4 linked regions of the Homo sapiens genome follow. The protein of the gene in region 1 purifies or fractionates together with the protein of each later gene. This does not show direct contact. Each region holds a gene or a part of one and is shown on either strand. Other genes may lie near its edges.

The links. The genes of interacting proteins can lie anywhere in the genome.
Region 2: the proteins of COL16A1 (region 1) and LAIR2 purify together in Homo sapiens (co-immunoprecipitation; one large-scale study listed by IntAct). This does not show direct contact.
Region 3: the proteins of COL16A1 (region 1) and P4HA1 purify together in Homo sapiens (affinity purification with mass spectrometry; one large-scale study listed by BioGRID and IntAct). This does not show direct contact.
Region 4: the proteins of COL16A1 (region 1) and C1QTNF1 purify together in Homo sapiens (co-immunoprecipitation; one large-scale study listed by IntAct). This does not show direct contact.

What each region holds. Positions count from the first base shown.
Region 1 is NC_000001.11:31,697,518-31,701,017, forward strand, and holds part of COL16A1 (collagen alpha-1(XVI) chain precursor), read right to left. Parts: intron 2,599-3,500; coding exon 2,524-2,598; intron 2,414-2,523; coding exon 2,296-2,413; intron 1,375-2,295; exon of another isoform or gene 1,233-1,374; intron 1,090-1,232; coding exon 966-1,089; intron 656-965; coding exon 389-655; intron 1-388. UniProt on the Homo sapiens protein: Involved in mediating cell attachment and inducing integrin-mediated cellular reactions, such as cell spreading and alterations in cell morphology.
Region 2 is NC_000019.10:54,505,831-54,508,508, reverse strand, and holds part of LAIR2 (leukocyte-associated immunoglobulin-like receptor 2 isoform a precursor), read right to left. Parts: intron 619-2,678; coding exon 325-618; intron 1-324.
Region 3 is NC_000010.11:73,048,367-73,051,866, reverse strand, and holds part of P4HA1 (prolyl 4-hydroxylase subunit alpha-1 isoform 2 precursor), read left to right. Parts: intron 1-617; coding exon 618-814; intron 815-3,500. UniProt on the Homo sapiens protein: Catalyzes the post-translational formation of 4-hydroxyproline in -Xaa-Pro-Gly- sequences in collagens and other proteins.
Region 4 is NC_000017.11:79,044,669-79,048,168, reverse strand, and holds part of C1QTNF1 (complement C1q tumor necrosis factor-related protein 1 isoform 1 precursor), read right to left. Parts: exon of another isoform or gene 3,284-3,500; intron 1,615-3,283; coding exon 1,475-1,614; intron 632-1,474; coding exon 81-631; 3' UTR 1-80.

The sequences.
Region 1 (3,500 bases):
GAGGTTCCATTCATGCTGGGCTTTGAAGGGCTGGTAGCTACTCAGCGGATGAGTATGCAAGGAAAGGCATTCCAGGTGGAGGTAACAGCGTAGGCAAAGGCACGGCAGTGTGAAAGCACTGGGTGCGCTGGATGGCTAGGATGGAATTGATCAGAGCAGAGCTGCACGGAGAGATGTAAAGGAAGATGGTGCTGCAGACACTTATAAGGACCAGATCATGAAGGGCCTTGAATGCCAGGTGAATATGTTTAGGCTGCATTTGGAGGGCAACAGGAAAGCAGGGGAAGATTCTAAGCAGGAGAAGGACTTGTTCCGATACGGATTCCAGGAAGCCCACTCAGGTTCCCAGAAGGCAGGAACAGAGGTCAGGGCCTGACCTAGCACTCACCGAGACAGGCTTGCCCTGCTCAGCATCCAAGCCTAGAAATACATGGCCCACAGGCCTCATGGGTCGTCGGGGCCCCAGAGGCTGGGAGGAGGCTGAGCTGCAGTCCACGTGCACAGAGGCCACACGTCCAGCCACACTCAGCATCAGCTTGTGCCAACGCAAGTCGAAGAGCTGGGGCACTGGGAAGATGCAGGACACAAAGTCGCCATCCTGGCCCTGGGCCCTGAGCTCCAGGCTCCGCTCTTGGCTGTTGACTTCCAGGGATATCTGGGTAGAATTTGGAAAGGGAAAGGACAGAGATTCAGAGCTCCAGAGTCACACCATGGGCACGTTCAGGGACCTTGAACTCATTTCACAGGAGGGGAACTGAGGCCCAGAAAGAGAAGAAAGCCGGCTGGGGTCAAGGAGCTATACATCCTGAAAGAATGAGGTAGGTACTGGTGGGCTGGGGACAGGCTTGAGGGTAGGCACAGGATGGAGCAGGGAGACCCCAGAAGTCACAAGCCGGGATGAAAGGTGGGCTGGACTGGTGCTACCCAATGCCCTAAGAGGCAATCAGGGCACAGGGGAGGTTCACCTGTGGATACCCATTTGCATCGGTCACTTGAAACAGATACCACGTCTTCTGGTGGGTGTGTTTCTTCAGCAGTAGTGTCAGCACCAGGGCAAACTCCTCCGGGAGACCCCGAGGGAATACTCTTCTGGAGATGGAGCAGGGAGGGTGCCCTGAGGCTCCAATGAGGACCCAAATGCTGCCCACCCTGAGCCCTCAGGACTGCTGAGCCTACCCAAGACATCCACAGGCACACATCTTCCATCATATACATTCATTCACTCTCCATACCTTTACTGAGTGCCTTCCGCGAGCTAGGTGCGGGTCTGGCTGCTGGGAATAACAGTGGTGAAGGCTGGGTGCGGTGGCTCATGCCTGTAATCCCAGCACTTTGGGAGGCCGAGGTGGGCGGATCACCTGAGGCCAGGAGTTGGAGACCAGCCTGGGCAGCATGGTGAAACACCGTCTCTACTAAAAATACAAAAAATTCGCCAGGTGTAGTGGCAGGCGCCTGTAATCCCAGCTACCCGGGAGGCTGAGGCAGGAGAATTGCTTGAACCCAGGAGGTGGAGGTTGCAGTGAGCCAAGATCACGCCACTGCACTCCAGCCTGGGCAACAGAGCAAGACTTGGTCTCAAAAAGAAAACCAACCAACCAACCAAACAAACAAACAAACAAAAAACCCACATACACAGTGGTGAAAATACAGAGGCACTGCCTGCCTTCATGGAGCCTTCACGTCTGATGGGGGCAGGGAGGCCATGAGCAAAGAATCCCCAGAATGACTATTTCGCTATCGCATTGCAATTTGAATAAGTGCTTCCAATGAACCCAGAATACCCTAGGTGAATAACTGGAGCAAGGGTGGAAGGAGAGATACTGAAAAAAAGATGGAAAGGGTTCAGCATGACCAGAGCAGCAAGAGATAAAAAAGAGCATTTTGAGAGCTGAGGTTGAAGAGGCAAGCAGGGGCCAGGCCAGGGCTTGTGGGAATTTGGACTTCACACACATGGGTGCACACACACGCATGTGCGCACACACACACATGCACACACGCACATGACTCTTGCCAGGTTCCCGCCCACATCCTGTGTTCTCACAGTGCCCACAGGATGCAGACCTGTTCCCACCCACTGCTGGCCAGAGACAGGGGAAAGACAGAAGGTAGGTCTGCCAGGTACCACCTCTCAGCCCACCCTGCAAGCCCAGGGGTGGAGACCAGGTTGACTCCTGGCAGGGGCTGGGATGCAATGACCCACAGACAGGCCCCTGGGCTTAAGCCCCACATCTGGAGTTGCTGAGGAGTGTGGCTGAGGTCAGTGTTGATTCTCAGTGGTCACATGGATGCATTTACCGCGTGGGCTGGGTCACGGGGGCCGCCCCCAGGCGCAGGATGAGAGGCCCCTTGGGGTTGCGGATCTTCTTGATGGCAGACGTCTTCATGAGGCTGAGTCGGTGGATGAGGTTGAAGCCTTTGGGGGAGACATCAGGTGAAGAGCTCAGCTGAGCAGGTGGAGAGGGGTACAGATCACTCCCAGAGGAAGGTTGCAGGGACGGCGCGATGAGATGGTTGGGTGCTCACCAGTCACGTTGGCTGGCAGGCTACTACTGTGTTCCAATTTGAGTCCTTCCTGCTGTGAAGGTGGGCATTGTGCACCTAGAAGAGAAGGGGCAGGGGGGCATTAGGTGCGCTCAGGCCAAGGTTGCTGCACGGCTGGACGCCTGGGGAACCTGGGAGGGAGCAAGTTTATAGTCCTCACTCTGGACCATCAGCTAGATCCTGCCTTCACCACCTGCCTTCTGACCCTGGCTCCCCAGGAAGCCTGGAGGCCCCCAACCCAGCATACAGTTTGGAAGACTGAGGTCCAGAGACTGAGGCCCAGGCCAAGGTCACTAAGTGAGCCAACAGCAGAGCAGGCCCAGAACTCCAGGAACCCAAATCTCCCAGCACTCCAAGTCAGGAGCTAGGCCAGCAAGGGAGAGAATACACGAAGCTCTAGGTGGCTCTCGAGCACAGATGGAGTGGGGAGCTGTGTATTTACACATGTGCCCCCTCCATGACATACACCCAGGTGGGGGGCAGAGGAGCTCTTCAGGGGTAAGGAAATGTCAGAATCATGCACATTGTGTGTTATGTACAATTATATGTACGTGTCTGTACATGTGGGAGTTGTAGGTGCCCATGCCACGAGGGATGACATGTGCAGCTGGCACACGTGTTCTCAGCAATAGGAACGTCCTACATCCAAATCAGACAAGCAGGCCAGACACAAGTAGGAGCCAACAGAATGAATATTTACCTGAATAACCACCTTGTGAAACAGCGAGAAGAGACTGAGGGTCTGAGGGGACCACAAGCTCAAGGGTACCACCAGGGCCTTGGAGCTCCAGGAAGGGCATATTAATGGGTTAGGGCTCCCAGAGAAGGAGATAGCTTAACTCAGGTTTCCAAAGCCCTGAAAGAACAGGTGGGCAGCCATGGGCCTCCCTCGCCCTGGGGCTGACTGAGCAGAAGTGTTGGGGGAGGTGCTACAACAGGAAAGACAGAGGCCAGAATCA
Region 2 (2,678 bases), on another chromosome or scaffold:
CTTGTAGGGGGGTTGCCCCCTAATCTCTGGGAACCCACTCCCCACCCAGCCAAGCAGAGCCAGCTCTGAGCCAACCCAATGCTGGGACTGAGTGTCCACGCCATCTGTGGCGTCCAGAGGAGATCAGGGCTCCAGGGACCTAAGCAGGTGTGAGGGCAGAGGGGAGGTGTGTGCAGAGGAAGAAGGGGAGGGGAGGGCTTGGGGTCAGGAAGAGGGCAACGGTGGCCACAGAGAGAGGACAGCAGCCGGGACAGGGACCAGGGACCTCGGGACAAGCTCGAGGGTCGAGCTGAGACTGGGGCAGGGCCCAGGTGACGTCCTCACCTTTCACCAGCAGCTCCAGGAAGTCACTGTGCTCAGACCATCCAGGGGGCTTATAATAGAGGCAGCGATAAAGCCCGGCATTTCCTTCACTTACTGAGTCAATGTGGAATCTGGCCTCTGACTCAGATGGACCAAGTCGAAACACATTATAACTATCTTTGTACTTGGCTCTATCCTCCCTCTCCAGGCGGAATGTTTGAACCCCAACCGGGCCCCGGCACATGAAAGTCACATGGCTCCCCGGGGAGATCACAGTGCCTGGCTCAGCCGAGATGGAGGGTCTGGGAAGGGCCCCTAAGAGGGAAGCAAAGAAGGATCTCAGCGTCCACTGTAGGAAGTCACCATGCCACACACGTCATTTTAGGATCACAATTCAGGGATTTTAGCAATTTTATAGAGTTATGCAGCCACGACCACAGCCCAACCTTAGAACATTCCCACGCCTCCTGCACCTTCTACGTGCATGTGATTCTCATCACTGCAGAGTTTTTTCCCAGTTGACAGTGAGGACCCTGAGACTTGCTCACAACTTGGGCCTTGCTCAGGGTCACGTGGGAAGTGTCGGAGCAGCCTGGAGCCCTTCATGCCTGCTGCAGAGCCCAGGGCCACTTTCTAGAGGGACAGAGGGTGGGAGGGAGGCACACGATGGGGATGACAGGGTCATTCGTGAAGGACAAGGGACAGGGAAGCGAGGGCTCTGGAGATGGCTCGTGCTGGGGCCTGAAGGGCACTGGCCGGTCCCCGGGTGGGACTGAGTGTGGGACGGGGGTTGCCAGGCTCCTTTGAGGGTCTGGTGGGGTGAGGGTGAAGCCCCCAGCCCTGATCTGCTCACAGCAGATGCCCAGCCCGTGACAGGTCCCCATTGCTAATGCAGATCTCTGTGGAGACACCACCTCTGGGTTTTCCTCTATAGTTTCTACTTTCTTCTCAGCTTAATTTGCATTTCCTTGTTATTAAGGCTCTTGAAAAACCCCATTTATCTCAACTGGGCTTGGGGTGGAGGAGGAAGGGCGGGTTTGACGCCCTGAAACAGGAAGGTTGTGTCAAAATTAGCAAAATCCCTGAGCGGGGCAGAGAGCTGGCAGGGCTTCAATTCACTCGTCCCGTCTTCATTCATTCCTTATTATTGACAAATTAAAACTGCATGTATTTAAGGTGTACAACATGATGTTTTGATACAGGTATACACTGTGGAATCGCTGAATCAAGCTAATTAATATAACCTCACTTTGCGTAGTTAATTGTTGTGGTGAGAACATTTAAAATCTGCCCTCTTAGCGATTTTCAAGCGTATGATATATTGTGATTAACTCTAGTCATTATGTTACACAATCCTGAACTTACTCTCCCTGTCTAGACGAAATTTTCTATCCTTTGACCAGCATCTCCCCAAACCCACCCATTTGTTCATTTTTCTTTCTTTTAACCATATCTCAGTTACTTATCAATCTGTTTAAAGACGCTTTTCATGAGCTGCTAATTCCGCAAATGTGAGAAACACATACAGGATGCCTGCCCTTTGGAGGTGGACGTCTAGAAGGGAGGACAGATATTGATCGAAGAATTGTCCAAATCTGCAGCTGCGAACTGCAATAAGTTTCCTGTGGGTAAGTGTGCAGGGATCTAGGGGACAGGTGGGCGGTGGAGCTGACCTCCTCTGCAAAGTCAGGGGAAGCTCTCTCTGAGCTGAGAGCTGAGGGAGGAGTAGAAACTCCCTGAGCTGAGCAGACAGGGGACACCAGGGCACTCAAAGTGGGAAAATTCCTCAAAGGAAACAAGGTTTTAGTTAGAGAGGAGAAATCAATTCAAGAATCATCATGTACAACACGGTGACTACAGTTAATAACAATGTATTACATTATTGGACATTGCTAATCCAGGTGATTCTAAGCGTTCTCACCACAAAAAAATGATTCGCACAGGAGGAATGCCTACGTTGCCTAGCTCGATGTAGCCATTCCTCGCTGTGTGCAGAGTCCACAACGTCATATTGGACATGACAAATACATGCAATTTTCATCGGTCAATTTTAAACTGAATTAATTAACTTTTAAAAATCAGACCAGGCGCGGTGTCTCACACCTGTAATCCCAGTACTTTGGGAGGCCGAGGTGGGCGGCTCACCTGAGGTCAGGAGTTCGAGACCAGCCTGATCAACATGGTGAATCCCCGTCTCTACTAAAAATACAAAAACATCAGCCAGGCATGGTGGCAGGCACCTGTAATCCTAGCTACCTGGGAGGTTGAGGCAGGGAGAATTGCTTCAACCAGGGAGGCAGAGGTTGCAGTAAGCCAAGACCGAGCCATTGCACTCCAGCCTGGGCAACAAGAATGAAACACCATCTCAAAAAAAA
Region 3 (3,500 bases), on another chromosome or scaffold:
TCAAATTGAACTTAGTTCCTTTAGCTGATTAGTAAATTCTCAAAGTAAAAGCACCAGTTGCCACCTTTAAATAAATAGCTGTTTCTGTCTCCAGAACTGTCTTTTTTGAGACAGGGTTTCACTCCTTTTGCCCAGGCTGGAGTGCAATGGCATGATCTCGGCTCACTGCAACCCCCGCCTCCCGGGTTCAAGTGATTCTCCTGCCTCAGCCTCCTGAGTAGCTGGGATTGCAAGCACCCACCACCACGCCCAGCTAATTTTGTATTTTTAGTAGAGACGAGGTTTCACTATGTTGGTCAGGCTGGTCTCGAACTCCTGACCTGAGGTGATCCACCCACCTCAGTCTCCCAAAATGCTGGGATTACAGGTGTGAGCCACCAGGCCTGGCCCAGAACTGTTTTTATATAGGTGACTATATGTCCTGATTTACTTGGGGGCAGTAGTAACTTATACCTATTATTTTGGTATAATAATTTTTATTAGTGCCTCCTTTCACTCACAACAGCAACCTGGTTTGGAAGATAAATTATAATGTCTCCTATTTTTATATTACTATATTCTGATGCTTGAACAAGCATGAACTTACCCATGGACATGCTTTGTTTCTCTTCTAATAGATCCTGAACATCAGAGAGCTAATGGTAACTTAAAATATTTTGAGTATATAATGGCTAAAGAAAAAGATGTCAATAAGTCTGCTTCAGATGACCAATCTGATCAGAAAACTACACCAAAGAAAAAAGGGGTTGCTGTGGATTACCTGCCAGAGAGACAGAAGTACGAAATGCTGTGCCGTGGGGAGGGTATCAAAATGGTAAAGTGGAAAAGCCAATTGTGTGTATGTGAATGTGTGTGTGTATGTGTTTGTACACAGTTCTGGAGAGAATCAGTTATTTTATATTTAAGCCTATGTGATAAAAATCAGAATGACTGCATAAAATATTACAGTATGTCAGCTTAGGCAACATAGACCCCATTACAAAAAAATTTAAAAATTAGCTGGGCATGCTGGTGTACACTTGTAGTCTTAGCTACTCAGGAGTCTGAGGTGGGAGGATCACTTGAACCAGGAGTTCAGGGGCACAGTGAGTTATGATTACACCACTGCACTCCAGCCTGGGCTACAGAATAAGACCCTGTCTCTAAAAAACTTTTTTTTTTTTTTTTGAGATGGAGTCTCACCCTGCCACCCAGGCTAGAGTGCAGTGGCATGATCTCGGCTCACTGCAAATTCCGCCTCTTGGGTTCAAGCGATTCACCTGCCTCAGCCTCCTGAGTAGCTGGGATTACAGGTGCCCGCCACCATACCCGGCTAATTTTTGTATTTTTAGTAGAGATGGGGTTTCACCATGTTGGCCAGGCTGGTCTCAAACTCCTGACCTTGTGATCCACCTGCCTTGGTCTCCCAAAGTGGTGGGATTACAGGCGTGAGCTGCTGTGCCCAGCCTAAAAAACTTTAAAAAAAAAATTACAGTATACCATTCTCTCTCTGTGGGTGCCACATTTAATATGTTCCAATTATTAGTAAAATAGCTTTAAAATAAAGCTTGTGAATCATATACTATTACATATGTTTGGGGCAATATTACCTTTTTCATTTGATCCTTCCAGGGTGAAGGATCAAATAAGTTTAAAGGAAGTGATAGTTTTTTTTATATTTAATGCAAGAGAGATTTCAGCAGTATTTTTTTTTTTTTTTTTGAGACAGAAACCCACCCTATCACCCAGGCTGGAATGCGGTAGCGCAGTCTCGGCTCACTGCAACCTCCGCCTCCTGGGTTCAAGCAATTCTTGTGCTTCAGCCTCCCAAGTAGCTGGGACTACAGGCATTCGCCACCATGCCCGGCTAACTTTTTTGTATTTTTAGTAAAGACGGGGTTTCCTTATGTTGGCCAGGCTGGTCTCAAACTCCTGACCTCAGGTGATCCTCCCGCCTCGGCCTCCTAAAGTGCTGGGATTACAGGCGTCAGCCACCACACTCATCTGTTCAGCAGCCTTAATTAGAGACAATAACACTACTCTGTGCATCTTATGAGATACAACAGATTCATCTATACAATAATCCCTTGTAGTTTTGCTCCTAGTTAATCTTCACAAGATTGCTTAGTGAAATGCTTTAGTCTGTTTAATACTGAAAATGCAGAAAGTTTTCAACAGATTTTGTCTTTAATATTTCTTTAAAATATATCTATAAATATTACTTTGTTTATTGTATATGTATTTATAACTCAGAATTCCAGTTCTATAGATGTTAATAGATACTAGGCCAAAAGCAAAAAGAACAAAGTCTGGGGAACATTTGTTAAACAAAGTTGAACATAGGTTTTTGTTTAGCCTCAAAACTTCTCAGAACCTTTTTATGATAATGTGCATTGTGATATGATATACATTCTTTCTCAATATTAATTGATTATGGAACCTTTTGAAAAGGAATTTCATGTGGTATTAGTTTTCAGTTGAACACAGGCTTGCATAGAAGGAGTTAGTGAATTTTTGGAGTAAGTACTTTTAGGTGTAAACATTTGAAAAGTGTTTAACATTTTCTTTACTACTGGTAAACTCAAGCTGGGCTTTGCATTTCGATATTGATGACTGTTGACAGCTTAACCACTAACAGCAAAGTATACAATACGTATGGTGACACTTTCAATAGATAGGTTCATGGAGTCCTAGGAGGACATGCTTGAGCTAATGAGTAAATACAAAGATGGTGACACTGTTAGACTCATTATTTTCTTTTTTTTTTCTCTGAGACGGAGTCTCGCTCTGTTGCTCAGGCTAGAGTGCAGTGGCGCCATTTCGGCCCCTGGGTTCACGCCATTCTCCTGCCTCAGCCTCCTGAGTAGCTGGGACTACGGGCGCCTGCCACCACGCCCAGCTAATTTTTTGTATTTTTAGTAGAGATGGGGTTTCACCTTGTTAGCCAGGATGGTCTTGATCTCCTGACCTCGTGATCCGCCTGCCTCGGCCTCCCAAAGTGCTGGGATTACAGGCGTGAGCCACTGCACCTGTTCCCTCATTAAACATTTTCTTTTCTGTTTCATTACTAAATATTTTAGTATGTATCTTTTAAAGATACAAATTCAAAATAACTACAATACCATTATCACCTAAAAATTCACAAGTTTTGTAATATCAAATATCTAGTGTTCAAATTTCCGCAGTAAGCAGAAATTTTTATTGCTCTTAATAACTCTTAAGGAACAAAATAAAACTGTAGATATAAAACAAAGAGTCTGCTAATTTCCCGGTTTGTTAATGTAACACATACTCAACTTTGCCTAAGATCAAAAGAACATTCTTGCCAGGCACGATGGCTCATGCCTGTAATCTCAGCACTTTGGGAGGCCAAGGTGGGTGGATCACCTGAGGTCAGGAGTTCAAGACCAGCCTGGCCAACATGGTGAAACCCCATCTCTACTAAAAATACAAAAAGTTAGCCGAGCATGGTGGCAGGGGCCTGTAATCTCAGCTACTTGGGAGGCTGAGGCAGGAGAATT
Region 4 (3,500 bases), on another chromosome or scaffold:
CCAGGGATCGGGGAAGAGGCGGTGGGGTCAGCACAGCGCAGGGGTGGAAGGTGGCGAGAGGAAAGGAGGTGGCCGGCCAGCTAGGGCTCGGTGGCGTGCTTGACCAGGTAGCCACTGAAGGTGATGTAGGTGTCCAGCTCCTCGCTGAAGATGGCGTTCTCACGTTCGCCCTTGTAGAGGCGTACCCACACCTGGTCCTGCTCTCGCAGCTCCAGCATCAGGCTCTGGCTTTGCATGATGCTGCGGTCGCCCACCTGCGCGAACAAGATCACCACCTCCTCCTCGTTCTTCATGATGTGCAGGTAGGTCTCCTTCTGGTTCCAGGTGTGCACGTTGAGGCTGAAGAAGTAGAGGCCGGGCACGTAGCAGTAGAACTTGCCGGTGAACATGTTGAAGTGGTCGTAGAGGTTCACGAACTCCGTGTCGAAGATCACCGTCTGGTAGTAGTGGTTGCTGTGCATGGGCTTCTTCCGGCCCACCGAAAAGGCGGCGTAGTGGCTCTTGCACCGCTCCCCAGGGGCCCCCATGGAGCCCTTCTGCCCTTTGGGTCCAGTGTGGCCCCTGGCCCCTGCTGAGCCTGTTTTGCCATATTTCCCTTGGAGGCCTCGATCTCCGCGGTCACCCTTCTCCCCTAAAAGGGATGGGAAAACGCGTGCTGTTAATGGAGCAATCCGGTAGTGTCCTGAGCCTTGGCTGCTCACTCTCCGGTCCCTGGCGCTGTCCTGATTCGTCCTCACAGCCCTGACCTGGCAGAAGCTTCACTCCTGCCCCCAGCCCCCTGCCACGGGCGGCGTCCCAGCCTGGCACAGAGGTATTGTGATTCCCAAAATGGCCAAGCAAACAGACTCAACCTCAAGGATGGTTCTATTTTCGCCCAGAAGCAATAATTTTTTTTTCCTTCTGGAAAGCCCTGGTAAAAAAAAAAAAAAAGAAAAGAAAAAAAAGAAAATGGAACATACGGGTTCGTCCAAAAGCAATGGGCTCTGCGGCCAGACCGACGGCTCGCTCTGAGCAAATGAACTCCAGATGTCGGGGCCAGCTGGGGATCTAGGCTGCAAGTGTTTCCAGTTCGATTTCACGGGGCTGTGCAGGGTTATCTGCCGTGTGCAGGACCGGAGCGAGCAGGTGGCATTTCAGAAAGCAGGCTGGGGGACCAAGCCCCAAAGCAAAGGGCCTAGAAGCCTGGCGTCCACATACAACTGGAGGGACGAGACCCCGAGTAGCCTCTGGGCTCCCTCTCCTGCTCTTGGTCCTGTGGGCCCCTTTCCAACCCCTCCTCTTGGAGAGGGGCCAGAGCCTCAAAATCAGAATTTCCTGTGCCTTCCCCTCTAGATGACAGCCTGCCTGCCTCTGCTCCCTGTCCCGAGGGAGCCATTCTGCTCTCGCCTAGCCCCACCCTAACGACTCCATCCCTTCCTCCGGATCAGCACAGAGCAGCCCGGCCACCCCGTGCTTGTCTTTGCAGCCATCTGACCTTTCAAGATAGTGATGTTGATCTGGGGCACGGCGGTCGCCGGGTACATGGAGGTACCGGGGTCACAGCAGCGCAAGCACCGGGAAGCAGGGAGCCCCTGGTCCTGACTGGGCCTGTATTTTTCATGTTGTTCTTCAGCCCTGAGGGAATAAAGAATCACAGTGAAAGTCAGCCACTCTCAGGCCTGGAAACGCTGCTCTCTCCTGCTGCCAGTGGTTCTGGCATGCCTGACCTGCCTTCTCACTCTCTCACCTGGACCCACAAGGCTCTGTGTTCACGCTGGTGGGCTCACGGCCCACTCTGGGATCCTCACTACCGAACGAGCCCCCTGCCCTCTGTTAAAGGCAATGACAGTCCTGGAAACACACGCAGCGATCAATTGAGTGCCACGCAAGATGGGGGCTGCTCGGGAGAAATCCACACTTCTAAGAGAGGGTCTTTGGGTGACACAAGACAATGCCGGGACTCCCTATCGTATATCCGTGATGCTAGAAAATAACATATGAAGCTGACTCGTCTGCAAATAAGAAGGTTCAACTGGATCTTTAGGATTCCCCTCAGCTGTAGCCGCTGGAGAGACTCTTATGTTTCCAACCTGATTGGAAGGACAAGCCCGCAGGCAGGATGGACGGCGGCGGCTCCTGGCTGCCACCTCGCGGCCCCTCATGGCATCACATGTGCTCTGGCTTGTGGCTCTTCTTGCCCAGGCTGTAGAGCTGCGCAGACCCACGGGGGCAGCAAAGTCCCCCTGGATGGGCCAGCTCCTCATCTAATGCTGCTCCCACTTCTGCACCCCAGACTATCCAGGAAACGGATCTCTGTGCCCTAAGTTCAGCTACCCATAAGCCCAGGACTCCCAGATGGACATCTCACCCCTACCTCTCTCCTAAGCCCCAGACCTTGACTTCAAACTTCTCACCAGAAGTCTCCATCTGGAGATGCAACAGGCCCCACAGATGTCATGTATGCAAAACCGAAACCCCTGTCCCCATCCCTTCGCCCCTGGAATCTTCTCTTTCTGAGCTCTGTTCCTGGCATCAACAGCGGGTGCCCAGGGTGGAGCCTTCGGCATCACCCCCGACTCCCTCCGCCAACCCCCTGGCACAACTTTCAGCAGAGTCCTGGGCTCCCAGCCAAAAGGCACCTCCAGAACTGAGCCCAGGGCCCTCATCATCTCTGATGCACCCCTGCCATTTCGACTCTCACTTGGAATCTGCCCCTCCCCGCACCAGCTCATCCTCTCTGCTGCCTCCCTCTGGCATTCTTCCGAGAACACCGTCCAATTCAAGCTTTCCCATGATTCCTCTTGTTCTTTGTAGGATTGAGTTCAGGTGAGACCCTCCCCAACTAGACCCAGCTGCCTCCAGGCTCAACTGCCCTACTGTCCTCCAGCCTCCAGCCTCCAGCACTGGGTCTCACCATCCCAAACCACCCACCAGCCCAACAAACACCACCAGCCATGCCTTTGCACACCCCATTCTGGCTACCAGGTAGCTTTCCCCTCCTTCTGCACCTGGGAGGCCCGCAGGTGTCCTTCAAGACCTAGTTCACTCCTTTCAGTCTTCCTGGGACCCGCTCCTCCCTCTCCTGGCCCTGCCTCCAGCGTCATGGGTACACCCCTACTACAAAGCCCACCACGCTGCCCTGTCTCTCATGTGTCTATCTCCCTCTCGGCCTCAGAGCTCCTGGAGGCCAGGACTGTGCCACTCATGTGTCCCCCCGTGCCTGGGGGATGGCCTGACTGATAGGAGGGGCTCAATCAAAGAAAGAGGAGGGAGAGGAAGAAAGAACGGAATGATGTGACTCAACCTCAAATCCTGTCCAATCCCATCGTACACTGAAGTTAGTCTGAAGCCTCAAGTATCAAGTCAGCCCAACGCTCAAAATAATGAAGAGACTCCAAGCCAGGCTTGAGCTGTCGCCGGGTCTCCAGGACCTCACTCTGGGTACATGGCAGTTGGATGAAGCACTCGGCTTCCCTAGGAAATGTCCCAGGTCGGCTGGAGTCTCTCTGTCATTGCAGGTC